Linked DNA regions of Homo sapiens. The protein of the gene in region 4 purifies or fractionates together with the protein of the main gene of each other region. This does not show direct contact. Each region holds a gene or a part of one and is shown on either strand. Other genes may lie near its edges. The genes, in order: GON4L, PPP4R3B, NPAT and CRAMP1.

Region 1 (7,026 bases), on a different chromosome or scaffold from region 4:
ATTTCCAGAGGAAACCCTCTGGATCTCTTCTGCAACACCCCTCCCCCAAAACATGTTTAATGTGGTATCTTTGTGGAGAACAGATACTCAGAAATTTTTAATTCAATTCTCATCCGTTGCTAGATTTATATTAGCTTCGTTCACTTTCTTTCTTTTTTTTATTTTTTTATTTTTTTTTTGAGACGGAGTCTTGCTCTGTCGCCCAGGCTGGAGTGCAGTGGTGCGATCTTGGCTCACTGCAACCTCTGCCTCCCAGGTTCAAGCGATTCTCCTGCCTCACCCTCCTGAGTAGCTGGGATTACAGGCATCTGCCCCCACACCCAGCTAATTTTTGTATTTTTAGTAGAGATGGGGTTTTACCATGTTGGTCAGGCTGGTATCGAACTCCTAACCTTATGATCCACCCGCCTCGGCCTCCCAGAGTGCTGGGATTACAGGCGTGAGCCACTGTGCCTGGCAGTTCACTTTGTTAAACTGATTGTTACCTTATCTGTCATGTGTGGGGCTAAGACCCATGTTTATTTCAGAAAACACTGCTTGTTCCTCATCAAGACATAGTCTCTCAAAAGCACTACAGAAGCCACACTTGCTCTTTAGACTTCCTTTCTCAATATGAAGTAGCTGATTATCTTGTTGTCATCCCAATTAAGGCAGTTACACTGCAGACTCTGCGTAGAACTGACTTGACGGACTTAGTTCTCATACCATTTTCCCAAAAACCTTTTCCTTGAATTGCTCCATAATATTGAATAGGATTTGGCTGGGGTGGTGCATGTGGTGGAATGGGAAGAACACAGGTTGCAGGGACAGGGAAACAATCCTTTTCATGTGTGCTACAAGGAGAGAGCATCAAAGCTGCTGGAAAAGGCCGGAACAATCATCGAGCTCGCAACAAGCGGGGAAGTCGGGCTCGGGCCAGCAAGGACACCTCCAAGCTGCTGTTGCTGTATGATGAGGACATTCTCGAGCGAGATCCACTCAGGGAGCAGAAGGACTTGGCCTTTGCCCAAGCTTATCTGACCAGGGTAGGCAAATGCTGCTTCCTGTTATTGCCAGTCTCTATGAATGTGGCTGCTTCTTCAAGGGAGATGTTTTTCAACATAAAGTCTGTTTTTCAGGCTATGCAACAGGCTTCATATTCCTCTATCTTGGCTTTTCTGGCAAAAGATCTCTGTGACAGAACCACAAGGAGACATAGAATTCAATCATAAGTATGTTTATTGTTAGTACCCTGCCATCATCCTTCTGTTGACCAGAGATTGGCAGAAAGATGATACCACCATCATCAGTGGGAGGTTGTGACTTTACTGGGTGCGCTGATAAGGACCTTTATAGAACCTTTGGCTTGAGAAGAAAGATAGTGGGTACACTGGCCAGCAAGTGGATTTCAGGAAAATACATTGCTCTTAAGACATGAACCAGCTGGGCGTGGTGGCTGACACCTATAATCCCAGCACTTTGGGAGGCCGAGGTGGGTGGATCACCTGAGGTCAGGAGTTAGAGACCAGCCTGACCAACATGGTGAAACCCTGTCTCTACTAAAATACAAAAATTAGCCGGGTGTGGTGGTGGGCGCCTGTAATCCTAGCTACGGGGGAGGCTGAGGCACAAGAATCACTTGAACCTGGGAGACGGAGTTTGCAGTGAGCCGAGATCGCACCACTGCACTCCAGCCTTGGTGACAGGGCGACACTCTGTCTCAAAAAAAAAAAAAAAATGAACCAGGCTGGGCGCTGTGGCCCTTGCATATAATGCCAGCACTTTGGGAGGCTGGGGTAGGAGGATCCTTGAGTCCAGGAGTTCAAGACAAGACAAGCCTGGGCAACACAGGAGACCTCCATCTCTACAAAAATAAAAAAAAAATAGTGAGCTAAGCATGGTGGTGCATGCCTGTGGTCCTAGGTACTTTGGGAGTCTGAGGTGGGAGGATCACTTGGGCCCAGGTGGTTGAGACTGCAGTGAGCCATGATTGCATCAGTGCACTCCATCCTGGGCAACAGAATGAGACCCTGTCTCAAAAAAAAAAAAAAAAAAAAAAACCACACATAAGCTAACCACTTCTTGGTAGTGTCCTGGAGAACTGTGTCCTTCTCTTGGTAACCACCTGATTCCTTTATCCCCCTGGAAAGCAGAATACTGGCAATGATAGTCATAGCTTTTTCTTATCTCCTAATGTTTTACTGACATTCCTAACTTATGTATTATTTACTCTCAAATTACGCCCATGCTGAAATACATGTACAAACACATGTTACCTATTTCATTATGGGGCTGTAATCAGTAAGGAAAGGTTAGGGCTGTGACCTAGAGAAAAGCATTGCTTGGTTTTGTGGGTAGAACTGTGGAACGTGGAAGATGATTTTTCACTTGCTCACTCCCAGAAAAAGATCTTTACCTTGCCTATTGCTCTGTGTCTTCCATTAACAGTCAGATGTTAAGATCTGTTGGAGGCACAGCCTCTGATGGATAATTCTTGGAGCTCTCTAACCATAACCCTGCCTTCTCCCTTGTACCCTTATTGCTTGTTGTGGCCCAAATAAAGGGTGTTGATGATTGAAAGTCTTCCCGTGTAGGTGCGAGAAGCCCTACAACATATCCCTGGCAAGTATGAAGACTTCCTTCAAGTCATCTATGAATTTGAGTCAAGTACCCAGAGACGGACGGCTGTAGATCTCTACAAAAGCCTGCAAATTCTGCTCCAAGACTGGCCTCAGCTGTTGAAAGACTTTGCTGCTTTCCTGTTACCTGAGCAAGCTCTGGCCTGTGGATTAGTAAGTGAATGGGGAAAAAAAGTACACTGGGACTCCTGGGTCAGAGTGAGACTGGGATTGAATGGGGTTGAATAAGACTCTTTCAGTCTCCCAGCTCCTTCCAGACACACAGCCATCCCCTAGCCCAGAGTGATAAAAGCCTCTGTCTTTTCAGGGTATTATCTTTCCAATCCCATTCTCCCATTTTCTTTACATGATAAATGAGAGGGTTTTACCTATAGTTGCCAAAGGACACCTTAGGTGAGTCATATGCTCTCTGCTTCTCACTGGTATCAAGCCAGACATTCATTTAACAAATATTTGTTAGGTGCCTCCTAACTGTCAGGAATTCCTAGCAATTCCTGACCTCAATTGCTAGGAATATAGTAATTACAAAAGACTAAAATTCCTGCCCTCGTGGAGCTTACGTTATCATGAGGAAATTCAGATGATACTCCAGAAAACATATATATATATATATCATATATATATATATATAATATATAAAATATAAATTATAAAAATAAATATAAACAGCAAAATATATAGTATACAATGTTTTATAGTGATCATGTTTTACAGAAAAATAAAGCAGGAAAGGAAACTAGAGGGGTGGTTTTATACACAGCGGTCTGGGAAGGCCACTGTGGTATGGTAACGTGAAATGTTGCAGAATAGGAGGCTAAACATGAGGGATATCCCAGTAGTCCTGGACTTATCGTCATAAAAATAGGAACAAAGGGAGGAACGGGATTATTCTAAGAGTTTTATTGGGGTTAAATGACAGTGGGGTAGTTCTGCATATAATGTGTGATGCCCATTTTCTCTTCTGGTATTATGAGGTTCCAATCAGTGTATACGTGAACAAAAAAAAAAATTTTTTTTTTTTTGAGATGGAGTTTCACTCTTGTTGCCCAGGCTGGAGTGCAGTGGCGTGATCTCGGCTCACTGCAACCTCCGCCTCCTGGGTTCAAGCGATTTTCCTGCCTCAGCCTCCCGAGTAGCCGGGATTACAGGCATGCGCCACCACCACGCCTGGCTAATTTTGTATTTTTAGTAAAGACGGGGTTTCTCCATGTTGGTCAGGCTGGTCTCGAACTCCAGACCTCAGGTGATCTGCCCACCTCGACCTCCCAAATTGCTGGGATTACAGGTGTGAGCCACCACACTTGGCCAAAAAATTTTTTTAAAGAGATAATGTCAGCCAGGTATGGTGGCTCACACCTGTTATCCCAGCACTTTGGGAGGCCAGCCTGGACAACATAGCAAGACCCCATCTTTACATAAAATAAAAAAATTAACTAACTGGGTGTGGTGGTGCACACCTTTGGTCCCAGCTATTTGGGTGGCTGAGGTGGGAGGACCACTTGAGCCTGAGAGGTTGAGGCTTCACTCAGCCATGATTGCTCCACTACACTCCAGTTTGGGTGACAAGAGCAAGACCTTGTCTCAAAAACAAAAAAGAGAGAGACAATGGCCAGACACAGTGGCTGGCATCTGTAATCCCAGCACTTTGGGAGGCTAAGGTGGGAGGATCCCTTGTAGCCAGGAGTTTTGTTGTTGTTGTTTTATTGTTGTTGTTTTTTGAGGCAAAGTCTGACTCTGTCACCCAGGCTGGAGTGCAGTGGTGTGATCTCTGCTTACTGCAACCTCTGCCTCCCAGGTTCAAGTGATTCTCCTGCCTCAGCCTTCCGGGTAGCAGGGATTACAGGCATGCATGACCGCACCTATCTAATTTATGTATTTTTAGTAGAGATGGGGTTTCACCATGTTGGTCAGGCTGGTCTCGAACTCTTGACCTCAGGTGATTTGCCTACCTCGGCTTCCCGAAGTGCTGGGATTACAGGCATCAGCCACCACAGCTGGCCTGTAGACAGGAGTTTGAGATGAGCCTGGACAACACAGGCCCCTGGGATCCTCCTGCCTCAGCCTCCCAAGTAGCTCAAGCTACAGGTGTACACCACGGCCCCTGCCTAATTTTTAAATTTTTTTGTAGAGACATAGTCTCAGTATGTTGCTGTTCTTGAACTCCTGGCCTTAAGCGATCCTCCTGCCTTGGCCTCCCAACATGGGATTACAGCTATGAGCCACCTTGTGCAGCCTGAAAGTTCTTTGTAATATAAACTCTAAAGTATCATATGAATTTTGGTGGCTGATTTCACAATCCTTAAAACAGCAAACAACTTGAAATATATACATCTCTTGAAGCTGTTGCTCACATCTTAATTGCTTTGGGTGGCTACCCACCAGTGGCCCAAGGTGGATGGAGGTTAGGGTTTTAAATTAGATCTCAATAGTTGTAAACTAGAATTTTAAACCAGGGTTCTGTCATCTCTTGTGTCCTAGTCCACTAGTTCTTATCCTTAGAACCCTCAAGTCCTGCTCTAGCTGTATCATGACTCCTCTTTTGCCCACTTTCCACTCTGGTAGTTTGAGGAGCAGCAGGCTTTTGAGAAGAGCCGCAAGTTCCTTCGGCAGCTGGAGATTTGCTTTGCAGAGAACCCCTCACACCACCAGAAGATTATCAAGGTCCTCCAAGGCTGTGCAGACTGCCTTCCCCAGGAGATCACCGAGGTATTCTTTCCTGTCCTGCTTTCTTCCTGTTGTCTTCCGGGCCTTAGGCCTTTCCCTTGTCTCTTTCCCCAACCTACTCCATACCTTTTTGCCTCTGGAGGCTCATGGGCTTCCTGGAGGAGATGAAAAAGGCAAGGACTTTTCAGGCTCACCCAAAGCATAAAGCACTGGGATAGGGAGGGATTGCTACCTGAAACCGGAGCCTGTCTGATCTTCACAGGCTCAGGAATGCCATGGATGTGCTGGAAGGGATGTTCAGCGAAGGAGGTTCTGGGACCTGGGAGGGGCCTTACCTCCTTGCTCTGCTTGGAATAGTGCCCTAGCTGGAGATCAGTAGGGTGGAGTGGAGAGTGGAATCATTAGGAATCAAATCCAGTATTAGTACCCTTCCCCTATAGGCAGCTAAGGAGGAAGAGAAAGTTTTAGTATTCTTTGTTACCAGGCAGAGTCTCTGTGTGTTTCCCAGTTGACTGGGAAAGCAGAACATGGAAGTATGTGGGATTGATTGGGAAGGGCAGCCTAGAGAGGCTCTGGAGACTTCCTCTTTCCCTCTGTGACTCTCCTCAGCTCAAGACACAGATGTGGCAGCTCCTCAAGGGCCACGACCACCTGCAGGATGAGTTTTCTATCTTCTTTGACCACTTGCGCCCAGCAGCTAGCCGGATGGGTGACTTTGAAGAGATCAATTGGACTGAGGAAAAGGAGTATGAGGTATAGGACCTAAGGCTGCTGTAGCCTTATGAAGGGGGAAGGCCACACGTGGGAGGGATATTGGCCTGGTGTCTGTGCTCAGCAGCACCAACTCCTTCTCAGTTTGATGGCTTTGAAGAAGTGGCCCTGCCTGATGTGGAAGAAGAGGAGGAGCCTCCCAAGATACCCACAGCCTCAAAGAACAAGAGGAAAAAAGAGATCGGGGTCCAAAATCATGATAAGGTATTTTCTTTGTTTATTTGTTTGTTTTTGAGACAGAATCTCGCTCTGTCACCCAAACTAGAGTGCAGTGGCGTAATCTTGGCTCACTGCAACCTCCACCTCCCAGATTCAAGCGATTCTCCCACCTCAGCCTCTCAAGTAGCTGGAATTACAGACAGGCGCCAGCCACCACGCCCAGCAAATTTTTGTATTTTTAGTAGAGATGGATTTTCACTATGTTGGCCAGGCTGGTCTCGAACTCCTTACCTCAAGTGATCCACCCGCCTCGGCCTCCCAAAGTGCTGGGATTACAAGTGTGAGCCACTACGCCTGGCCTAAAATCATGATAAGGTATGCCAAGTTATTGAAAATTATCTATGTTTCATGAATCAAGCCTTGCGTTTTCTCACTGAACATTTCTGTGGCTTACTATGGCCCAAGGTTTCTAGTTCAAAGGCTCTAGGATCTGAGACGATCACGGAGAACAAACCAAAGGTCAGGCTGATACAGACATGCAGAGCCTTTGGGAAAACTGCAGTTGTTGCAGGGGCCCCAGGATTCCCTAGTTAGAAGGATTTGTTTCTTCCCCTTTTCTGTCTAGCTCAGAGTTATTACCCTTAATTCAACTTTTTTCATTTTTGCTCATGTGAGAAAATAGAGCCAATTGAGGATGAGCTTGTTATTAAAAAAATAAAATAGAACCAAGATTCCCCATATTAATAATAATGATAGCAGCTAATACTTAGTTGTATTACAAAGTGTCAGGCATTCTGGGAAGTATTTTAATGGA
Region 2 (7,026 bases), on a different chromosome or scaffold from region 4:
TAAAATAAAATTCTACAATCAACATTTTGGTAACAGAAAAATTCTAAACAATTCATTGAAATTGTTTTGATTATCCAAATTTTTTTCAGTAAACATGAAAAAATCTCACAGACGGGAAAAGCAAAGTTTGTGTGTAATGCTGTTTCACCTACCTTGGTGGCTGTTACTGACGTAGGCAAGTTTGTGGTTTTGGAAGAGGATCCATTAGAAGTTGCTGGTGGTATCTGAGCCACTACAGATTTACTGTTTGTTCCATTAGCAGCACTGGCAGAGTGGGAGAAAGTAAATTTGAAGCCACCAGGAGATGTCCTTTTGGGAAGGTTTTCCTTGTCTTCACTTTCTTTTGCTAAAGCAAAAGTAAAATTTTGAACGTATATCAATAAATACTGCTAAGTCAAAACATCTAAAAACAGCAGTAATTAAAAAACTTATAAAACATTGCTGCCCGGGCATGGTGGCTCACGCCTGTAATCCCAACACTTTGGGAGGCTGAGGCAGGCAGATCACCCAAGGCCGGAGTTCAAGACCAGCCTGACCAACATGGAGAAACCCCGTCTCTGCTAAAAATACAAAATTAGCCGGGTGTGGTGGCGCATGTCTATAATCTTAGCTACTTGGGAGGCTGAGGCAGGAGAATCACTTGAACCTGGGAGGCAGAGGTTGTGGTGAGCCGAGATCGCACCACTGCACTCCAGCCTGGGCAACAAGAGCGAAACTCCGTCTCAAAAAAAACCAAAAAAACAAAAAAAAATAACACCAAAATTAATTGCCTTTGTTTCCTAAGAACTTTTGAAAAAGAACATGATGTGTACAGTGATGATATGGTCTGGCTCTGTGTCCCCACCCAAATCGCAAATCAAATTGTAATCCCCACATGTCAGGGGAGGGACCTGGTGAGAGGTGACTGGATCATGGGGGTGGATTTCGCCCTTGCTGTTCTTGTGATAGTGAGTTCTCACGAGATCTGGTTGTTCCAAAGGGTGGCACTTCCCCCCTTGCTCTCTCTCTCCTGCTGCCATGTAACACATGCCTTGTTTCCCATTCACCTTCCGCCACAAGTTTCCTGAGGCCTCCCCAGCTATGTGGAATTTTAAGTCAATTATACCTCTTTTCTTCATAAATTACAGTCTCAGGTAGTTCTTTAGAGCAGTGTGAAAACGAACTATACAGAAAATTGGTAACAGGAATGTGGTACTGCTATAAAGATACCTGAAAATGGCAGGGCGCAGTGGCTCACGCCTGTAATCCCAGCACTTTGGGTGGCTGAGGAGGGTGGATCACTTGAGGTCAGGAGTTCAAGATCAGCCTGGCCAACATGATGAAACCTATTCTCTATTAAAAATACAAAAATTAGCTGGGGGTGGTGGTGCACACCTATAATCCCAGCTGCTCTGGTGGCTGAGGCAGGAGAATTGCTTGAACCCTGGAGGCAGAGGATGCAGTGAGCTGAGATTGTGCCACTGCCCACCAGCATGGATGACAGAATAAGACTCCATCTCAAAAAAAAAGATACCTGAAAATGTGGAAGCGACTTTGGAACTGGGTAATAGACAGAGGTTGGAACAATTTGGAGGGCTTAGAAAAAGACAGGAAGATATGGGAAAGTCTGGAACTTCCTAAAGACTTGTTGACTGGTTTTGACCAAAATGCTAACAGTGATATGGACAATGAAGTCCAGGCTGAGGAGGTCTCAGATGGAGGTGAGGAACTTATTCGGAACTGGAGTAAAGGTCATACTTGGTATGCTTTAGCAAAGAGACTGGCGGCATTTTGCCCCTGCCCTAGAGATCTGTGGAACTTGAACTTGAGAGAGATGATTTAGGATATCTGGTGGAAGAAATTTCTAAGCAGCAAAGCATTCAAGTGGTGGCCTGGGCTGGGCACAGTGGCTCATGCCTGTAACACCAGCACTTTGGGAGGCTGAGACAAGCGGATCACGAAGTCAGGAGTTGGAGACCAGCCTGGCCAACAGGGTGAAACCCTGTCTCTACTAAAAATACAAAAATTAGCTGGGCGTGGTGGCACACACCTATAGTCCCAGCTACTTGGGAGGCTGAGGCAGGACAATCAGTTGAACCTGGGAGGCAGAGGTTGCAGTGAGCTGAGATCATGCCACTGCATTCCAGCCTGGGCAACAGAGAGAGACTCCATCTCAGAAAAAAAAAAAAAAAAAAAAAAAAAAAAAAAAAGAGGCCTTCTGGCGGTTTCTAAAAGCGTATGCTCATATGCATGAAGAAAGAGATGGTCTGAAATTAGAATTTATATTTAAAAGGGAGCAGAGCATAAAGTTTGGAAAACTTGCAGCCTGACCATGCAGTAGAAAAGAAAACCCCATTTTCTGGGGAGAAATTCAAGCTGGCTGCAGAAATCTGAATAAGTAACAAGGAGCCAAATGTTAATTCACAGGCCCAGAGGCCTAGGAGGGAAAAATGGTTTTGTGAGCTGGGCCCAGGGCCCTGCTGCTCTGTGCAGTCTTGGGACACCCTGCATCCCAGGTGCTGCAGCTCCAGCCATGGCGAAAAGGAGCCAAGGTACAGCTTGGGCCATGGCTTTAGAGCGTGCAAGCCCCAACTCTTGGTGGCTTCCATGTGACACGGGGCCTGTGGGGTAGAGGCAAGAACTGAGGTTTGGTAACCTCTGATTCTCAAACCACCTAGATTTCAGAAGACATATAGAAATGCCTGGATATCTAGGCAGAAATCTGCTGCAGGGGCAGAGCTCTTATGAAGAACCTCTACTAGGGCAGTGCGGAAGGGAAATGTGAGGTTGGAGCCCCCACATAGAGTCCCCACTGGGATACTGCCTAGTGGAGCCATGAGAAGAGGGCCACCATCCTCCAGACCCCAGAACAGTAGATCTACCAACAGCTTGCACCATGCACCTGGAAAAGCCACAGGCACTCAACTCTAGCCCATGAAAGCAGCCATGGGGGCTGTACCTGGCAAAGCCATAGGGGCGAAGCCAGCCATGGCCCTGGGAGCCTACCTGTTGTATCAGCATGCCCTGGATGTGAAACATGGAGTCAAAGGAGATTATTTTGGAGCTTTAAGATTTAAAGACTGCCCTGCTGGGCTTTGCACTTGCCCAGGGCCTGTAGCCCCTTTGTTTTGGCCAATTTCTTCCATTTGGAATGGGAGCATTTACCCAATGTCTGTACCCCCGTTGTATCTTGGAGGTAACTAACTTGTTTTTTATTTTATAGGATCACAGGCAGAAGGGATTTACTTTGTCTCATATGAGACTTTGGACTTGGACTTTTGAGTTAATGCTGGAATGAGTTATGGGGGACTGTTGGGAAGGCATGATTGGTTTTGAAATGTAAAAAGGACATGAAATTAGGGAGGGACCGGGGTGGAATGATATGGTTTGGCTCTTGTCCCCACCCAAATCTCATTGTGAATTGTAATCCCCAGGTGTTGGAGGAGATGACTGAATCATGGAGGCAGAAAACCCCCTTGCTATTTTTGTGATAGTGAGTTCTCACGAGATCTGGTTGTTTCAAAGTGTGTGGCACCTCGGCCGGGCTTGGTGGCTCATGCCTGTAATCCCAGCACTTTGGGAGGCCAAAGTGGGTGAATCATCTGAGACCAGGAGTTCAAGACCAGCCTGGCCAACATGGTGAAACCCCATCTCTATTAAAAATATAAAAATTAGCTGGGTGTGGTGGTACATGCCTGTAATCCCAACTACTTGAGAGGCTGAGGCAGGAGAATTGCTTGAGCCCAGGAGGCAGAGGTTGCAGTGAGCCGAGATCACGCCACTGCACTCCAGCCTGGGCAATGAGAAGGAGACTCCATCTCAAAAAGCAAACAAACAAACAAAAGTGCATGGCACCTCCTCCTTCACACTCTCTGTCTCCCGCTCCACCATGGTTAAGATATGCTTGCTTTCCTTTCGCCTTCGACCATGACTGTAAGGTTCTCGAAGCCTTTCAGCCATGTTTCCTGTTAAGCCTACAGAACTGTGAGTTAATCAAACCTCTTTTCTTCATAAACTACCCAGTCTTAGGTAGTTCTTTTTAACAGTATAAAACGAACTAATACAAGTGGTAAGTCTTTATTAGCTAGAATCTTAGAAATCTCAGTATTAGAAAGGACCTTACGGATCATAACAAAATTAGCCATTCTATGCTAGAACTCTACATTGTGGTATCTAGCACATACATCTAAAATCTCATTAGCTGTCTGACTCTTCCTTTTATTGTCTCCCTGTAGCTTCCACTCACTGACTCTACACTTCTTTACTCATGGTAAAAACCTAGTAATTTCTCTCACAAGTCAATATTCCAAATGCCTAAAGACAATGATCAAGTCCGTAAGTCCTAAATATTCCAGGTTCCTTTTTCTGTTTGTGTTATGACATAGGTGTCCAATCCCTTTTAACATCTGGTTATTATTTTTATATATGATTCTTAACAGCATCTCACTCAACACTGGATACAGAACTTCAAATATGGCTGTACTGCCTCTTTTGACAATAGTCAGGGCAGTACCTGTAATGAGTAAAGGCAGAAGAATTTGTCTAGCAAAGGTACCGATTTCTTAGGATATTTTAATAAGCTTTTTGCTCCGCCACGCTGAGGCAAATAAAACTTATCAAACTAATGAGTTGAAAATGAGTACGAACAATAGTTTCAAAGAAAATGTAATAAATGAAATTAATTTTCTGAGAATTGTCTTTAGAAAATGTCACATTCAAAATCACAAACTTACATAATAAATCCAAGAAAGGCTTTTATCTTCTAAGACATAAATTTTTTCTTTTGTTTTTGAGATAAGGTCTTTCTCTGTTATTAAGCTGGAGTGCAGCGGCAGCTCATGGCTCACTGCAGCTTCGACCTCCTGGGCTCAAGTGATCCTCCAGCCTCAGCCTTCCTAGTAGCTGGGACTCCAGGTAAGTGCCACTGTGCCCATTTAATTTTTGTGTTTTTTTGTAGAGACAGGGTTTTACCATGTTACCCAGGGTGGTTTGGAACTCCTGGGCTCAAATGATCCACCTGCCTCAGTCTCCCAAAGTGCTGGGATTACAGACGTGAGCCGCCATGCCCAGCAAGGTATAAATTTTAATTAAATATTTAAATGATATACTCAGGGCAGTATTCCAAAAAATGGTAATTCCTCAGGCCACAGAAGTAAAATGGTTAGTTCTTTTGAAAGATATATTACTAGCAAGATCTTCATTTTATAAAACAAGTTAAGCACATCTGAAAGCCAGGGGAAGTTTTACTTTTTCACTTCTCTTGTTAGTATATCTTTATGTAACTTTTGTAATTTTAAAATTTCAAAGAGCAAAGTTACTTGTTTGAGCTCAGTTTATCAGCTGTAAAAGACACAGGCAAAGTACTCTAGAAGGTTTCTATGAAGCTATATGGTCTCTGTTATTACTGAGAATTTCAGTATAGAAATAAAGCCAAGACTATTCACAGAAAGAAAAGTATAAGTAGATAATTCAATTTCTAACTAGCAAATTAACAGCATTACAAAATAGCAAGTTTGAAGAGAAACATTTTAAACATGAAAAGAATTCCCAGACAGATTTGGAAAAAGTACATAATTTTAAAAGAACACAGTTTGGTATAAAATTTTTGTCTTTCTTGCTTTGTAAACTATAAACAAACCTTCACAAAGCAACAAAATAATTTCTGCACTAAATAAGAGGGTACACTGTGCAAAAATTCCGAATTTTAATACCTTTTTTAGTCTCCATAAACTTTTCATAATTATCTGGAAAATCATCTTCTGGCTTAGGTTTTTCCACTGGTGCCACAACTGCTTTTCCTTCCTCTTCTTCATCTTCATTAAACCACATTTCTTCATCCTCTTCCAAGGCTTTTGCATCTCTGCGAAATCTGTTACTACGCAATATAGATGGTACACTGTAAGAAATATATCACAAATATTGAGTAATGATTTAAAGTTCATCATCAGATTGAACTGAAGGAAAAATATGTATAACCAAGATGAACTGAAGTAATTTTAACTGACTATAATTTATATCAAAATAATCTCTGTAATGATAGAAGATGTAGCCAGAGAACACTCCAAAATATTTTAGGATGTTGTAAATTAAACTAAATATTCTTCGTAAGTTACAACATGGAGTAGTAATTCAACATATAAATGATATGGGGTAGGGGGGACGCCTTACCCTCCTATTCAACTCTATGCTATCCAGTGATGGAAAGAAAATTCCTCAGTAAATTTCACATGGAAAATCTGAACTACAAACAATTTTGGACACAGTTTTGTAGGCTATAAAAGCAGTATACTTAAACAATACCTGTTCAGTTTCTGATTTTGTCTGTCTTTTTCTTGCTCATATTTAGTCTTCAATCCTTTGAATGTCTGAACATATTCAATCGATTCAAGTGCTTTATAAAAGTTTTCAACTATATGGGCAGTAAGAGACTTGATATCTTCCTGTATAAGCACAAAATTTACATTTAAAATATAATACAATGCTTGTTAGAAGAAAAACTTTAAAATTTTGTTTTGTAGTTCTAAAGCTGATCAAAAAAGGTTTTTCAAAATCACCTTCCAAAATGTAATGTCCTGGTTTCTTTACACATGAGTCAGGACTGCACAGAAAACTTGAAAAAAAAGGAGAAGCAATTTACTGGAGTCCTTTTATAGGACTATAAAGAGCATTCGAAAAGTAAATAGATTTATTTTACATCTTCTATTTTTTGTATATATATATATATATATAGCAGTTTACAATTTAAAAAGCACTTTTACATAAAATTTCATTTGATCTTCACAACAATTCTATGAGATAGGTTTTATTATTCCCATTTTAGAGAAAAACCAAAATTGAGGCTCTAAGAGAGGCTGGATGGTTTGATCCAGAGCACACGGCTGGTTAGAGGGCAGATGTTAAAATTACATTTTCAAAATACTCACGGTGATGGATACCCCAAATACCCGGACTTGATCATTACACATTCTATGCATGTAAAAAATAAATACATGTACCAAATACATCTGTATAATATTATGTATTAATAAAAGAAAAACATATTTTTCA
Region 3 (6,950 bases), on a different chromosome or scaffold from region 4:
CTACATATTTCTCACCTCTCTTCCTCAAAGACTTCTTCTGCCTAGTGTTTTTCCCCTTGGTTAATGTCACAATTTATTTTTTTCCTTTACTTTTGGAAATGTACATGCCCATTATTGTCTCTCAGACCCTCATCATCTCTTACCTGGAATATAGCCATCTACATAGAGTTTCTACTTCCAGTTTTCTGTCTTCTCAGTTCCATCTTCCACATTATTGCCAGATCTTCCAAAGACATAAACCTATTCATGCATCTTCCCTATTTAACACCCTTAAAGGGGCCGGGCATGGTGGCTCACTCCTGTAATCCCAGCACTTTGGGAAGCCGAGGAGGGTAGATCACCTGAGGTCAAGAGTTTTGAGACTGGCCTGGCTGACGTAGTGAAACCCCTTCTCTACTAAAAATACAAAAATTAGCCAGGCGTGGCAGCGTGCACCTGTAATCCCAGCTACTCGGGAGGCTGAGGCACTAGAATTGCTTGAACCCAGGAGGTGGAGGTTGCAGTGAGCCAAGATCATGCCATTGCACTCCAGCCTGGGCAATAGAGCGAGACTCCGTCTCAAAAATAAATAAATAAATAAATAAATAAATAAATAAATCTCTTAAAGGATTGCCTCTGAAACCTTTTGCATAATATGTAAGTTTCTTCATAATCTCATCTTTGCTCTTCTTTCTAGTTTTGATATCTTGCTGCTCTCCCACATAAATGCTGAAGCTCGTGGAAATTAAAATATGGCTATTAGAACTCCAGAGCATGTGCTCTGAGTGACATAGGCTTGTAAACATGATAGGTACCGGGACAGAATTTTAAAATAGATATAATCTGTTGTTTTCTTTAAGTGACTACCTGGATGTAAGTAGTACATTATGTGCTATATTGAGCATTGTAATTTGTAGATCCAAAGACTGGATTTATAATATTTGCCTGAACCGGGCGCGGTGGTTCACGCCTATAATCCAGCCTTTTGGGAGGCCCAGGTGGGCAGATCACTTGAGGCCAGGAGTTTGAAACTAGCCTGGCCAACATGGCGAAACCCCATCTCTACTAAAAATACAAAAAATTAGCTGAGCATGGTTGGGGGCGCCTGTAATCCCAGCTACTCGGGAGGCTGAGGCAGGAGAATTGCTTGAACCTAGGAGGCAGAGGTTGCAGTGAGCCGAGATCATGCCACTGCGCTCCAGCCTGGGTGATAGAGCATGACTCTGTCTCAGAAAAACAGACAAACATAATATTTGCCTGAAGTTGATGCATGTCATTTATTCCATATCTGGATTTCCTCTGTAGCAGTGGGGAAATAGCCATCTTGTACTTATTTCAAAGCTGCTTTTTAAAAGCTGCTTTGTCAACGTGTTCTATTTGTGTGTACATTAGCTACCATTTAAAATTTTTTCTCATGATATGTGATAATTGTCATCTGTTCTATCCTCTTTCAGAGGAGTATATTCTTTTTCTCAGGAATGTTCATTTATAATTTCAGGAAAACAAGTAAATAATTTGGTGGATTCGTCAGGTCATTCAGTTGGATGTCATGCACAAAAGTGAGTATAAAGTAGTTTCTATCATAGATTGTTTGAATGCTCAGATTTAAAACATAAAGGATTTCTTTATGCTGCTAGAAATAGTTTTGTTTTGTTTTGTTTTAGAACTGAAGTTTCTGACAAAAGTATTGCCACAGATCTTGGGAAAAAATCAGAAGAAACCACAGTTCCCTTCCCAGAAGAGAGTATAGTTCCAGCTGCTAAACCATGCCACAGACGTGTACTCTGTTTCGACAGCACTACTGCTCCTGTGGCAAATACGCAGGGGCCAAACCATAAGATGGTGTCCCAAAACAAAGAAAGGAATGCAGTCTCTTTTCCTAATCTTGACTCACCCAATGTGTCCTCCACCTTAAAACCCCCTTCTAATAATGCTATCAAAAGAGAGAAAGAGAAGCCTCCTCTGCCTAAGATTTTATCTAAATCGGAAAGTGCCATTAGCCGGCATACCACCATAAGAGAAACTCAATCAGAAAAGAAAGTTTCACCAACAGAAATTGTGCTTGAATCTTTCCATAAAGCAACAGCTAATAAGGAGAATGAATTATGCAGCGATGTAGAAAGACAGAAAAATCCAGAAAATTCAAAACTATCTATTGGGCAGCAAAATGGGGGTTTGCGAAGTGAGAAATCTATAGCTTCACTGCAAGAAATGACCAAAAAACAAGGCACATCTTCAAACAATAAAAATGTACTTTCAGTAGGTACAGCTGTGAAGGATCTAAAACAAGAACAAACTAAATCCGCCAGTTCTTTGATTACCACAGAAATGTTACAGGATATACAGAGGCACAGCTCAGTAAGTAGGCTTGCTGATAGTAGTGATTTACCTGTGCCCCGGACACCTGGCTCAGGGGCAGGGGAAAAACATAAAGAAGAACCTATAGATATTATCAAGGCCCCCTCTAGTAGGCGTTTCAGTGAAGACAGTAGTACATCAAAAGTAATGGTCCCTCCTGTCACCCCAGACTTGCCTGCCTGCAGCCCTGCCAGTGAAACAGGAAGTGAAAACAGTGTAAATATGGCTGCCCACACATTAATGATTCTCTCCAGGGCAGCCATTTCTAGGACTACTTCAGCAACTCCTCTGAAAGATAACACACAACAGTTTAGAGCATCTTCAAGGAGCACCACAAAAAAGCGGAAAATTGAGGAATTAGATGAACGTGAGCGAAACTCTCGTCCTTCTAGTAAAAATCTTACAAATTCATCAATACCAATGAAAAAGAAGAAAATTAAGGCAAGTTTGAAAGTTTTAATTTCAAAACCACACCTTTTTTTTCCGCTTTAGTGATTAGCGAATTCAGCAGTTCTTGCCACAACAACTTGACTGAACGTTATGGCTAAGACAGCTTTTAGTTTTCATTGACAAAATACATAACCATGATCACAGGACCAATAAGCAGTAGATGCAGGATTCAAACTCAGACTTGTAGGGCAACAAAGCAGTCCAGCAGTGTTAGTGTAGTACGCACAAGGTGTCTAGGTGAAACAGCATTTTCAGGAAAAACTGCTGAGGCATTTGTTTATAAACATCTTTCCGGGGGAAAAGAAAAAGTTTTTCTTTCTTTCTTGGTAGAACTCAAGTTTTTTCATGAGCGTGACATAGTCATGAAAGATTGGGAAACAATATTAAACACTATTGTGTAGAACTACCAAGTAATAAATGACTTTGTTCTTAGATGTTCAGTTTTTTTTTTCCCCCACGTCTTGTAATCTCTTCCATAGGCCCTTAAAAATGTTAGCATATTAGAGCAGTGGAAAAATCAAATTTACGTATGTTTTTCCATTTTTTTGAGAGAGGGTTTCACTCTCGTTGCCCAGGCTGGAGTGCAATGGTACGATCTTGGCTCACTGCAGCCTCCGCCTTCCAGGCTGAAGTGATTCTCCTACCTCAGCTTCCCAAGTAGCTGGGACTACAGGCATGCGCCACTGCATCTGGCTAATATTTTTTCCTTTTTTTTTTTTTTTTGAGACAGAGTCTTGCGCTGTTACCCACTAGAGTACGGTGGCGTGATCTTGCCTCACTGCAACTTCCGCCTCCTGAGTTCAAGCAATTCCCTGCCTCAGCCCCCTGAGTAGCTGGGATTACAGGTGTCTGCCACCACACCCAGCTAATTTTTGTATGTTTAGTAGAGATGGGGTTTCACCGTGTTGGCCAGGCTAGTCTTGAACTCCTGACCTTGTGATCCACCCACCTCGGACTCCCAGAATGCTGGGATTACAGGCATGAGCCACCACGCCTGGTCATTTTTTCTGGTTTTTTTTTTTTATAGAGACAGTCTTTTGCCATGTTGCCCAGGCTGGTCTTGAAGTCCTGAGCTCAAGTGATCTGCGCACCTTGGCCTCCCAAAGTGCTGGGATTACAAGCATGAGCCACTGCGCCTGGCCTTATGTTTTTTATTTAAGCATGGTTGTCTCTAGGAAGGCAGTGCAGGGATAGCATTGATAAATGAAATCCATTTATTTTCGATTTGGTTAGCTGTTTAGTAAGTGGATTGAATAGAAAGAAAGTGCTTAAAATATCATAGAGGAAGTATGGTATCAGGGAAATAATTTAGGCTTTGTTGCCCTACAAGTCTGGGTTTGAATCCTGCATCTACTGCTTATTGGTCCTGTGATCATGGTTAAGTCTGTAGCCTTTCTGAGTCTCAGCCTCATCACTTGACATGATATTACCAGGTATCTTAGGTTGTGAAGTCTAAATGTAGTATACATAAAGTATCTAGTGTATATTAAGTTTTGGAACTGATAAGTACCTGTAACCCTAAACATCTGTTAGTAAAGCTTTCTAAGCAGTAATAACCACCTAACATAGAAAGCATGTTCTATCTTGTCTCATTCAACATTCAGACACTCTGGATTTGTATCATGTCTTTTGCCATAAACTAACATTCAGGTGCCATTGAAGTATATTTAAGTAACTTTGGGTTTATAAAACTTGTCTCTACTTCTCTATAGAAGTAAAATTCTAATAGACTAAAAAAGTTTGACAATTTTAGTAGTATGTGAAAGAACCCAATATACTGTTTTAGGTGACTTACTAAGAAAGCATTTTGGCCTTGTTTTGAGTTTATTTTTTCTTTCTCTTTTTCAACAGAAAAAGAAGCTTCCCAGTTCATTTCCAGCAGGAATGGATGTAGACAAATTTTTGTTATCATTGCATTATGATGAGTAAACATTCTGGACACATAAGAACAGTAGGTGTTAAAAACTCATATCCCTTAAACTGAGTGTAGGGAATGGGATATTGACAGAATCTGAAAGCATGACCTGCACTTTCATTGTACTGAAACTTCACTTTATATCTAAATCATGCTGTTTCTGAAACAGCTTCCTAGTTTGTAAATAGACTTACTTGGTATATTTTTATTTTGGGAAAAACGTTTGCAGAAATGTAAGTAAAGCCAATCTGCAAAACTGTATAGCTTTGACAATTCCATATTGTAAATACTGTGTAAATCTTGTTGAAATAGAGGTTAAATCAACCTAATGTTCTTACACTGTGTTTTTTGACTTCTTATGATCCCTAATTCTGAGACTTACTCATCTGGAATAGTTTCTCACTTGTTTTGGAGGAAAATGATGCTTATTCTTATAAATTACCTTCAGTAACTATTCAATAAGACATTTAAATACACAATCACTAAGTACTACAAAATAATAACCACCTCAACTGATAGCAAAATATCTAATTAGAAATCAACAGTTTGATGAGTTTTTTTCCTAGAGTGAATACTACCCCTTTCTTATAATTGCTGTAAGTATTATATTTCTGGAATTTCACACTTTACCTACTCTGATCACTCTGTTCTCTTTGTTTTAAAGAGAGAATTTTGTAAACCATTTATTGAATGTTCTGATCTTTCATTTATAACTTAAGATTTTTTACAGAACTTTAAGTGGTTAGACTATTGAGCCATAAAATTTTGGTTTGTAGTAGAGATTTCTCGGTATGTACTTTTCCCCTAAATGCTGGGGATTTAAAGAATTGCACTAATTCATAGAACTCTTTACATTGTAGTGACCAATGCACATATAATTTAAATCTTGTGTTCTATGTGAGAGTTTATGTGGAGGATTATCTTCTGGTGTTGTGTCCATCATAAGATGTAAAAAGAGAAATCATAGTTTTATATTTTAGTTTCTCCTACAATGGGTATGTTAAATAACTATATCTATACTTAGATATAGTGCATTGTCTGTGTCCCTTAAAGTGTTACAAAGAGTTTCTCTCAAAAGGTCCTTAAGGAGAGTGAGAGATGAGAGAGGTGCCTTCTCTGTATTAGACTCACACACATCAGTCCAGTTGAAGAATTGGTTTAAACTTTTAAATGAGAACAGAAATTATAATTAGTACCTGACCAATTGTGCCTAGATATTAAAGTATGTTCTCTTTAGTACTTTCCGTTCAATTAAATATCAGTATATTAGGGATTTTTTTCTACAGGTGTATATTTTGTTGAAGAGTCACTTTCCTCAACCATTTTTTTGTACTGGGCCTTTAAAAAAATAAATCCATCCAACTTTAACACAACATTTCTCAGTGTAGAAATCATGTCTTCTTAATTGCTGAACCTTACTGCAAAAACTTGTGATGTAAGAAATTTGTATGGTGTGGCAGTGGTCTATTCCTAAGGAACTAAATATCATATAGTTAATGTTTATTTAACTCAGCTTGAGACTGTACTACAGTTAGGTTTGAATAAATATTTTCATTAACTTCAAAAGTTTGAATTACTTTACATTGGCAGTCTTGTTTAGAAACTGATTAAATTCCTTTGCAAGTCAGTTCTTTTTGGGAGTTTGTACAATGCTGAAAATCACAGTTTTCTTCTTATTCAATTCATAGTTGTATGTACTAAGCACTGAAAATTCATATACAAATAAAATAAGTTTACTTTCTTCAAGATTCATAGTTAACTAACCAGGAACTGCTAAGTAAAGTTGAAAGATAACTTGTACTTGGAGCTTTTATGTTCAAGAGCAAAATCATATCCCCATTTTACCTTAAAAGTCCACAGGTCCTGAACTTAATTATACTATTGTACCTGGTAACCTATTTGAATACTTAAATGCCCAGTGACTGCATTTCAGGGTTGATGTATACTACAACAATCCATGGCTGTTTTTATAATTACATATGAGGATCCAGTCTGTTGTTTGGATATTACTTAGAGGTTAATGCAGTCAGTGTATGCCAAATCTGAGAAGTGTTGTTAAGTAAAATCTTGTTACAGATTTAGCCCTGGATATATTAGAACTATAGTGTGTTGAAATTGCGCATAAGAAAAGCATCCATCAGCATTCATGCAAAGGCTACATGTCATGACTATTAGGAGTAATTTCAAAAGCATATTACTATATATTCTGCATTCATCCTTTCTCTGGTCATCATCTTTTAGGCTCAGG
Region 4 (7,026 bases):
CGTGTGCCCCGCGCCGCACCTGGAGCCGGCGCGGCCGCCCTCGCTATCCGGGACCTGGAACATGTCGACCGCCGCCACCCTCAGCTCGCCGCGCGCCGTTCCCGCCCGCCCAGCGCAGGTACTCAAGGCCGCCCGCCAGCGCCCATTGGGCGCCAAGACGCCAATCATCCCTCCGCAGCCTATCTCAGCGCGGCCACCGCCCCTCACGCCCACCCCCGACGACTTAGGCTTTGAACGGTCGGCGCCGCGCCCGCAGCCGATTGGGGAAGGCGACGCCGCTCGCGGAGGTGGGAGCTCGCATTGGGCGGCGGGCCGGGCGGGCCCTGGGACGGCCGCGCCCTCGGGAGGAAGCCCGGTCTGCGGGAGCCCGCGAGCCGACCGCGGGGCCGCACCTGGGCCGCACCTGCCCGACCAGGGACTGCGGGCATGGGCGCGCGGCCCTGAAGAACAGGCACAAACGACAGTCCTTAGATCAACATTAGTATGTATTTATGCACAATAAAAACATTTACAAGTTGAACTGGAAATTTAAACAGAAGTTTAACAGCTCTTATTATATTAAATAACCAAAACACCTTTTATTCCCAAAATTGGTAAAGAATAAATAATATAATTTACAATATGGTACAAAAAATAACCAGGAAAGGCAGGCATTCTGCTTTATACATACACTGTATATGCATATTTATAATCTATAAAACAAATTCATATCTGAAACGAGCGGAGGCCTCGCTATGGCTTAACCGAGTAAGAGAGAGAAGGGGAGCGGGGCGCGGGAGGCAGGGCCAGGGGCTGGGCTCCCCACACCTCACCCACCCCAAGGACACGCAGCCACTGTGACATCAGGAGAGCGCTGACAGCCGCGAAGGGTGTGCTGTGGGTTTTTTTCCTTCGTTGTAAATTACTCTTTCCTTGCTTTCTTTTTTTAACTTGAGACCCAGTTTCGCTCTTCTTGCCCAGGCTGGAGTGCACTGGCGCGATCTCGACTCACTGCAACCTCCGCCGCTGAGGTTCAAGTGATTCTCCTACCTCAAGTCTCCTCAGTAGCTGGGATTATGGGCATGCGCCACCACGCCCGGCTAATTCTGTACTTTTAGTAGAGACAGGGTCTCTCCATGTTAGTCAGGGTGGTCTCATACTCCCCACCTCAGGTGATCCGCCCGCCTCGGCCTCCCAAAGTGCTGGGATTACAGGCGTGAGCCACTGCGCCCGGCCTCCTTCCTTGTTTTCTTAAGACAAAGTGCTGTATTTCCTGACAAATGCATCGGCTAGAGCTCAAGGTTTAAAGAGAAAACACAACTGTCTTCCTCCTCCCTCATTCCCGGTGTCTTATGCCCCACAACTTTCTTTGCAGAAGAAATTTTGAATTCAATGCTGTGATCTAATTAAAGATGCTATTAAACTAAAAAGGTTATCCACCAGAAATGAGGCCACGGCCTCTCATGCCCAGAACCTGGAGGTGCGGCAAAGCAAGGAGGCCAACCGCGGAAACGCCGCCAACACCCCACTCCCTGAGCTGGCACCCTACAGCTACAAGACACAGAAGGACAAAACAGCCAGGAAGCCACGAACTAGGCATCCCCCGAGGCACGCAATGCCCGCTTATCACTGCACATCCACAACAGAATTGAGGCCAGAGGACTAACTTCCCTGGACCACAGATGCTCTGTCCCAATCTCCAGAAAAGACGAATCAACAGAAAGATCCCAGGCAACGTCAGAGGGATTCAGGAAAGCTTTTTCTAAGAAACTGATCTCATCTTAATTACAGCATGCTCAAATGCACAAAGGAAGCCACAGGCTCATACTTAGACGATCACCGCTTCTGTTGGAAAGGCAGAAGATGCAGGAAGTCTCTGTTTGGATCTTTTGAAAATTCCAGCCTTTAACAGTTGCCTATGTTTGCACATAAATATTCATTTAGGCCAGAAGAAAATGTATCCATTGTTTTTCTGCAACAAATGACACCATTTTCCCTTAATGTGGCAAGCAAATGCGTATCACCTGTCTAGTTACTAGAGAAGCAGAATCCTCTAGAACTCTTGTCAGCTTTATTACAGGAGAGGAGTCAGCCCGTCCTCCTCCCTAACCCATCTCCCCACTGGATGGCAATGGCTGCAGTTGGCTGCTCCCAGGAGTCTACGCTGGAGAACCAAGTGGTAGGTGCTGTCTAAAGAGCCTACGAAAGCAGACTCTGACCTCCAAAACTTCACCCCACTGAGTTGTCAGGGGCTAACAGGTACCCTGACAGGCAGTTCACAAACCCTCCTGTCCCTGGCACAGTGCACACAGCTCAGTGCTGTTGGGACTTGGCATCTCTGGTCTAGCCTGTGGGAGTATGAGAAAGCTAGCAGTGGCCTGAACTCGGCCTGGTATCCTAACCCTCTAGAGACGCAGCAAAGCCAGATGCCCAGAGGGAGATCTCCTTGTCTTCTCTGGCTCAATGAGATGCTAATTTTGGAAGCTGGTATACGTAGCACAAAACACAAGCTAGTGTAAAGATGCTGTAGTTCAAACACTGCTGTCTCTCTCCTAATCAAGTGGCATGTTTCTTTTTTCACCCCTAAGAGGTTTGGGACTGTTTGCTTAAGATCTCATGTCAATGTCTGAAGGAGGGAAGCCAGCTCAGGCAAGAGCTCTAAGAAAAACTCGTGAGACAAAAGAAGGAAGCTCTTGCCTGGAAGTTCACTGTCCTCTCCACGTCCTCCCAGTGGTGCAGTACACGGCCTGCCTGTGGTCTACAGTGGCTGTGGTGGGCTGGCAAGACTGCAGGACGGAGGGCGTCCACATGCTTGTCCACACCAAAGGCCTTTCCCTCCTCTTTTCACCTTCTCCATTGTGGATGGGGAGAGAAGCAGTGGAGGGGCCAGGGCTGGCCTTGAGGGCTGCAGCGTGCCACACATGTGGGGGAAGAGGAATGGTGGGGAGGAGGGAGAGTAGGTCCAAGGGGGTTAGGAAAGCACAATCAATCCCGGCTGCTGCGGGGGATGAAATGAGGCAGGAAGGGAGAGATGGCGGCACAGGCATGGCCTGCCCAACACCTCTGTAGCAGCTCCAGGCCACACTGGATGTGGATGGACGGTGACTCATGTGCCTGGAACTCCTGAGGATGAGAAGGCAAAGGGGCCCTTGTTAGCTCTGTCCTGGGGAAAGACTGGATGTTGGGCCGTCTGCAGTAGGAACGCTGGCCACCCAAGAGGGCGCAAGGAGGGAGACCACCACGAAGGCATATATTTGGTGAGGTCTGACCACATCCAGATGTCTGGGCCCTCACCTGGGTGTCCCAAATGGGAAGGAGACACAGAAGTCTCAAGGCAAAGGTATGCAAGGGACTGAACACGTATGTCAGGCACGCCCACACCAATGCCCGTGAGAGACACTTTCCCTGCAAAGGCAGGTTTGTCTCAAGTGCCAAACAGTCACACATCGAGTTTGAGAACTTATCAGGAAAGTCTTCGCTGTAATCATATTAGCGCCTAAGGGTCACCCCAGGAGGGAGAAATGACACCTTAGATCGCCTGGAAGCTTGCAAAGGGACACAGGAAGGAAACCAACTACAGAGGGGACTTTGTTCTTCCTCTTCCATGTCTCCTAATTCTTAAAACACAAGAAAAACATTTTCAACCAGCTTAGCAGGGTCCCATGTAAAGTCCACACAACCTGCATAGTACAGGACTCTTCCTGCCCCCACTCCCTGTTAAGAGTACGAACAAAACCTCTAGGGAGGGGAGGCACCAGCCCAGGGCCCCACGACTCCGCAGCAGCCCTGTGATCGGTATCCATGCTCTTGCTGCCTTGGGATGTGACACCACCAGGCATGAGCCCAGGCCACACCCAACTGTCCTGCCCGTTACAGTCCACAGAGGGCACAGCTGATGCATAGCACAGGTTTGGCAGAAAGCAAGCAGCAGGGGCTGGGGCCTCCCTGCAGAGAGGGAGATCACAGCTCCTAGTGCACAGCAACTACACCAAGGCACACATACTCCCTTGTCTCAGAAGGAAATGCCACCGGAATGTCCAACACAACAATCGAGGCAGAGCACAGGCTGAAATGGGATCATTATGCAGACCCTAACATGGGCCCAGGCGTGGTGAAGAACGGCTCTAGTACCACAGTGATTTCTAACGCTGGCCCTTGCCAAGAACTCATCCTAGTCTCCTTGGACGCCGTTGCCTGCTGCTCGTGGGGAAGCAGCTCTGTGACCACGTTCCTGCCCGTTGCACAGTCTTGGGTGCGGAGATGCCTCTGTTCAGACCATCTTCTGGGGCTGCTGGGCTTATCTATTTTTCTCTAGCTCGAAGAGGGCTTCATCCGCCACCAGGACGTGTGGTCACTGGGACAGGTCACTGACAGCGGGGCCGCCTCCACCACCATCAAACAGAGCTTCTCGGCGGCCAGGCTCAGCGATGGACAGCTCTTGGGCCAGGTCATTGAACCGAGAAATGTAATCAATGCTGTTTTCGTTCATCATGCACACCAGCTGGGAATCCACAACCTGCAGGAAGAGGAGACAGGAAGAACAAGTCACCGCGACCTGCTGGCCCTTCAGTGGAGGGCGGGTCCTGAAACAGGACGAGAAGCTCCTATCGACTCCCGCTGCAGGAAGCTAAGCTAGGGATGGCAGCCCAGGGCTCTGTGCAGAATCACAATCACCTGTCGTCTGCCCGCACACTCTTTAGATAAGTGCTCGCAGAGAGCCTATGATGTGCCTGGCACATCTGATGGCTGGGGTGAGGGTGCTGGTCCCCCCGCCCGCCATGAGACCTATGGGGGAAGACACCCAACAGGTAGACAGACTGTATGCAGCAGACACAGGCACTGGGGGCAGCCTGCAGAAACAGATGCAGAGTGAGGGGACAGAGAGTGCCGGGAAAAGGAGGCCAGAGAGGGTGCTCCAAGGACTGGGACCTGAGCGGGAGGTGGGGTAAAACCCGAGGATACGTGGGGGACACGTTTCCATCATAGACATGAGGACAGGTGGGGGACACATTCCCATCATAGACATGAGGACAGGTGGGGGACACGTTCCCGTCACAGACATGAGGACAGGTGGGGGACACGTTCCTGTCATAGACATGAGGACAGGTGGGGGACACGTTCCCGTCAAGAGACATGAGGACAGGTGGGGGGCACGTTCCCATCACAGACATGAGGACAGGTGGGGGACACGTTCCCATCATAGACATGAGGACAGGTGGGGGACACGTTCCCGTCATAGACATGAGGACAGCTGGGGGCACGTTCCCATCAGAGACATGAGGAGAGCTGGGGGCACGTTCCCGTCAGAGAAATGAGGACAGGTGGAGGGCACGATCCCGTCAGAATCCCAAGGACATGTGGTGAGGGCACGTTCCCATCAGTCCTGAGGACATGTGGGGAGCACGTTCCCGTCAGAGACATGAGGACACATGGGGAGTACGTTCCTTTTTAAAGAAGCAACAGGCATGTTCCCTGAGACAGGAAGAGGCTTTGACTGAAAAGCACGACCAAGGTGGTGGCCATGACAGAGTGAGTGAGGCAGCACAGAGCTGAGGAGACGGAGGACGGGAGGGCCTCGGCACCGGGATCTTGTCCCATGAGCAAATACGTAGAATGTGCCGTTTTCAGCGCTTATTGTCTGCGTCCTGCTCTAGAGTAGAAGCCTCATGAGGACAGGGGCCATTGTTTGCACACAGCAGACCCTGCAGAAATATCCCTTAATGAACTGCATGACACTGTGAATGCAAGAAGTCTGGAAAATTCTGAATAGAGCTATGGCGTAAATGAAATTTTATGCTTTGATTATGGGAAATGTCAGACAAATTAAAATTTGTTTTCAAAAGCAGAGCAAAGAGTAATTCTCCTTCCCCTGTATGTCCATCAGCAGCTCCCACCCGTTTCATCCCAGGGCCACCCAGCTCCACCCCCGCCCCCTTCATGCTAGCCCTACCACCAGACCCTTTCATCCACAAATGCCTCAGCCCATCCTTCCAGATGACGAGGACCTGCTGAGAAACATACTCACGTTCTGAGTGGAGGGCTCTCGGGAAAATCTCATGCTAAACGCTGATCTGCTCTTTCTGAAGGTGAACACGTTTGCATTACTCGCGACGGGCAGCGTTTCACAAATACTAACTGCACCCTTTCTCTGCTACTCACTCCCAAGTGCCATCTGTTGCCCAGGATTTTATTAAAGGTGCAAATTCTGATTGGGGTGAGGCTAACACTCTGGATTTCTGACTCCAAGGGGCTCCTGTCACTGGGCTGTGGCCCGTCCTTTCAACAGCATGGCGTGAGCATGCTGCCTCAGGGCACGTACGCAGCGCCCATCTCCACAGAGCCCAGCACTTAGGAACATGCGCACAAACAGGGGAAGAGACAGAGACTGGCTTCTCGGGAAACATCAGAGTCCAAGGTGTGCCCTGAATAATGATTCTGGGGCCAAACAGGTTTGAGAAACGCCACACACTGTGAGATGGAGGTCTACGCTATTAATTGTGTCTATGTGTATATTTGGCTAAAATTTCCAGTCATATCATGGCTTGGCTTGGAATTCTCCAAAGCCTGCCCATGAGTTCATCATCTCAAGAGTCACGATTCACATTCGGATACTGGGTAGCGGAGGTGTCCGTGAGAAACAGCTGTTTTGAGCTTTTTTGGATCCAGGGTGTCCCTCAAGTATCTACCCACAAAATCCTCAAGGAACACCTGCCAATGTCTCAACATTGTGGGGACTAGATTCGGGGAATGCTGCTCCAGGACTTTCACATGGGCTAAGCCCATGCGGATGATCTCCTGGACCTGGAGTTCCCTCCCTGTCCATAGAGCCCTCACCCGACTGCCCACACACCTGCCACTCTGCACTTTACGTCACAGTGAAACGGGCCTGTCTTCACCCTGCAAGCCTGACCTGCCCACGAATGCCACACAAACCATGTGGTGGACGCCTTGAGGGCTACAACCAGATGGCCTGGCCAACAAAGAGGGACGCTGCATCTCGTCAAAAGTGGAGAGTCACAAACCACGTTTCGCCTTCCCCTCAAGAAC

Evidence for each region.
Region 1: the proteins of CRAMP1 (region 4) and GON4L purify together in Homo sapiens (affinity purification with mass spectrometry; 2 studies listed by BioGRID and IntAct, with this or other methods). This does not show direct contact.
Region 2: the proteins of CRAMP1 (region 4) and PPP4R3B purify together in Homo sapiens (affinity purification with mass spectrometry; 2 studies listed by BioGRID and IntAct, with this or other methods). This does not show direct contact.
Region 3: the proteins of CRAMP1 (region 4) and NPAT purify together in Homo sapiens (affinity purification with mass spectrometry; 2 studies listed by BioGRID and IntAct, with this or other methods). This does not show direct contact.

What each region holds. Positions count from the first base shown.
Region 1 is NC_000001.11:155,756,189-155,763,214, reverse strand, and holds part of GON4L (GON-4-like protein), read left to right. Parts: intron 1-840; coding exon 841-1,025; intron 1,026-2,573; coding exon 2,574-2,771; intron 2,772-5,180; coding exon 5,181-5,324; intron 5,325-5,891; coding exon 5,892-6,035; intron 6,036-6,137; coding exon 6,138-6,257; intron 6,258-7,026. UniProt on the Homo sapiens protein: Has transcriptional repressor activity, probably as part of a complex with YY1, SIN3A and HDAC1. Required for B cell lymphopoiesis.
Region 2 is NC_000002.12:55,558,623-55,565,648, forward strand, and holds part of PPP4R3B (serine/threonine-protein phosphatase 4 regulatory subunit 3B), read right to left. Parts: intron 6,590-7,026; coding exon of another isoform or gene 6,572-6,589; exon of another isoform or gene 6,534-6,571; intron 6,420-6,533; coding exon 6,280-6,419; intron 5,876-6,279; coding exon 5,691-5,875; intron 347-5,690; coding exon 153-346; intron 1-152. UniProt on the Homo sapiens protein: Regulatory subunit of serine/threonine-protein phosphatase 4 (PP4). May regulate the activity of PPP4C at centrosomal microtubule organizing centers.
Region 3 is NC_000011.10:108,156,708-108,163,657, reverse strand, and holds the end of NPAT (protein NPAT), read left to right. Parts: intron 1-1,477; coding exon 1,478-1,538; intron 1,539-1,616; coding exon of another isoform or gene 1,617-1,643; coding exon 1,644-2,778; intron 2,779-4,638; coding exon 4,639-4,716; 3' UTR 4,717-6,443; downstream 6,444-6,950. UniProt on the Homo sapiens protein: Required for progression through the G1 and S phases of the cell cycle and for S phase entry. Activates transcription of the histone H2A, histone H2B, histone H3 and histone H4 genes in conjunction with MIZF.
Region 4 is NC_000016.10:1,671,350-1,678,375, reverse strand, and holds the end of CRAMP1 (protein cramped-like), read right to left. Parts: intron 4,496-7,026; coding exon 4,331-4,495; 3' UTR 468-4,330; downstream 1-467. Other genes in the region: JPT2 (jupiter microtubule associated homolog 2), read right to left, coding at 20-63.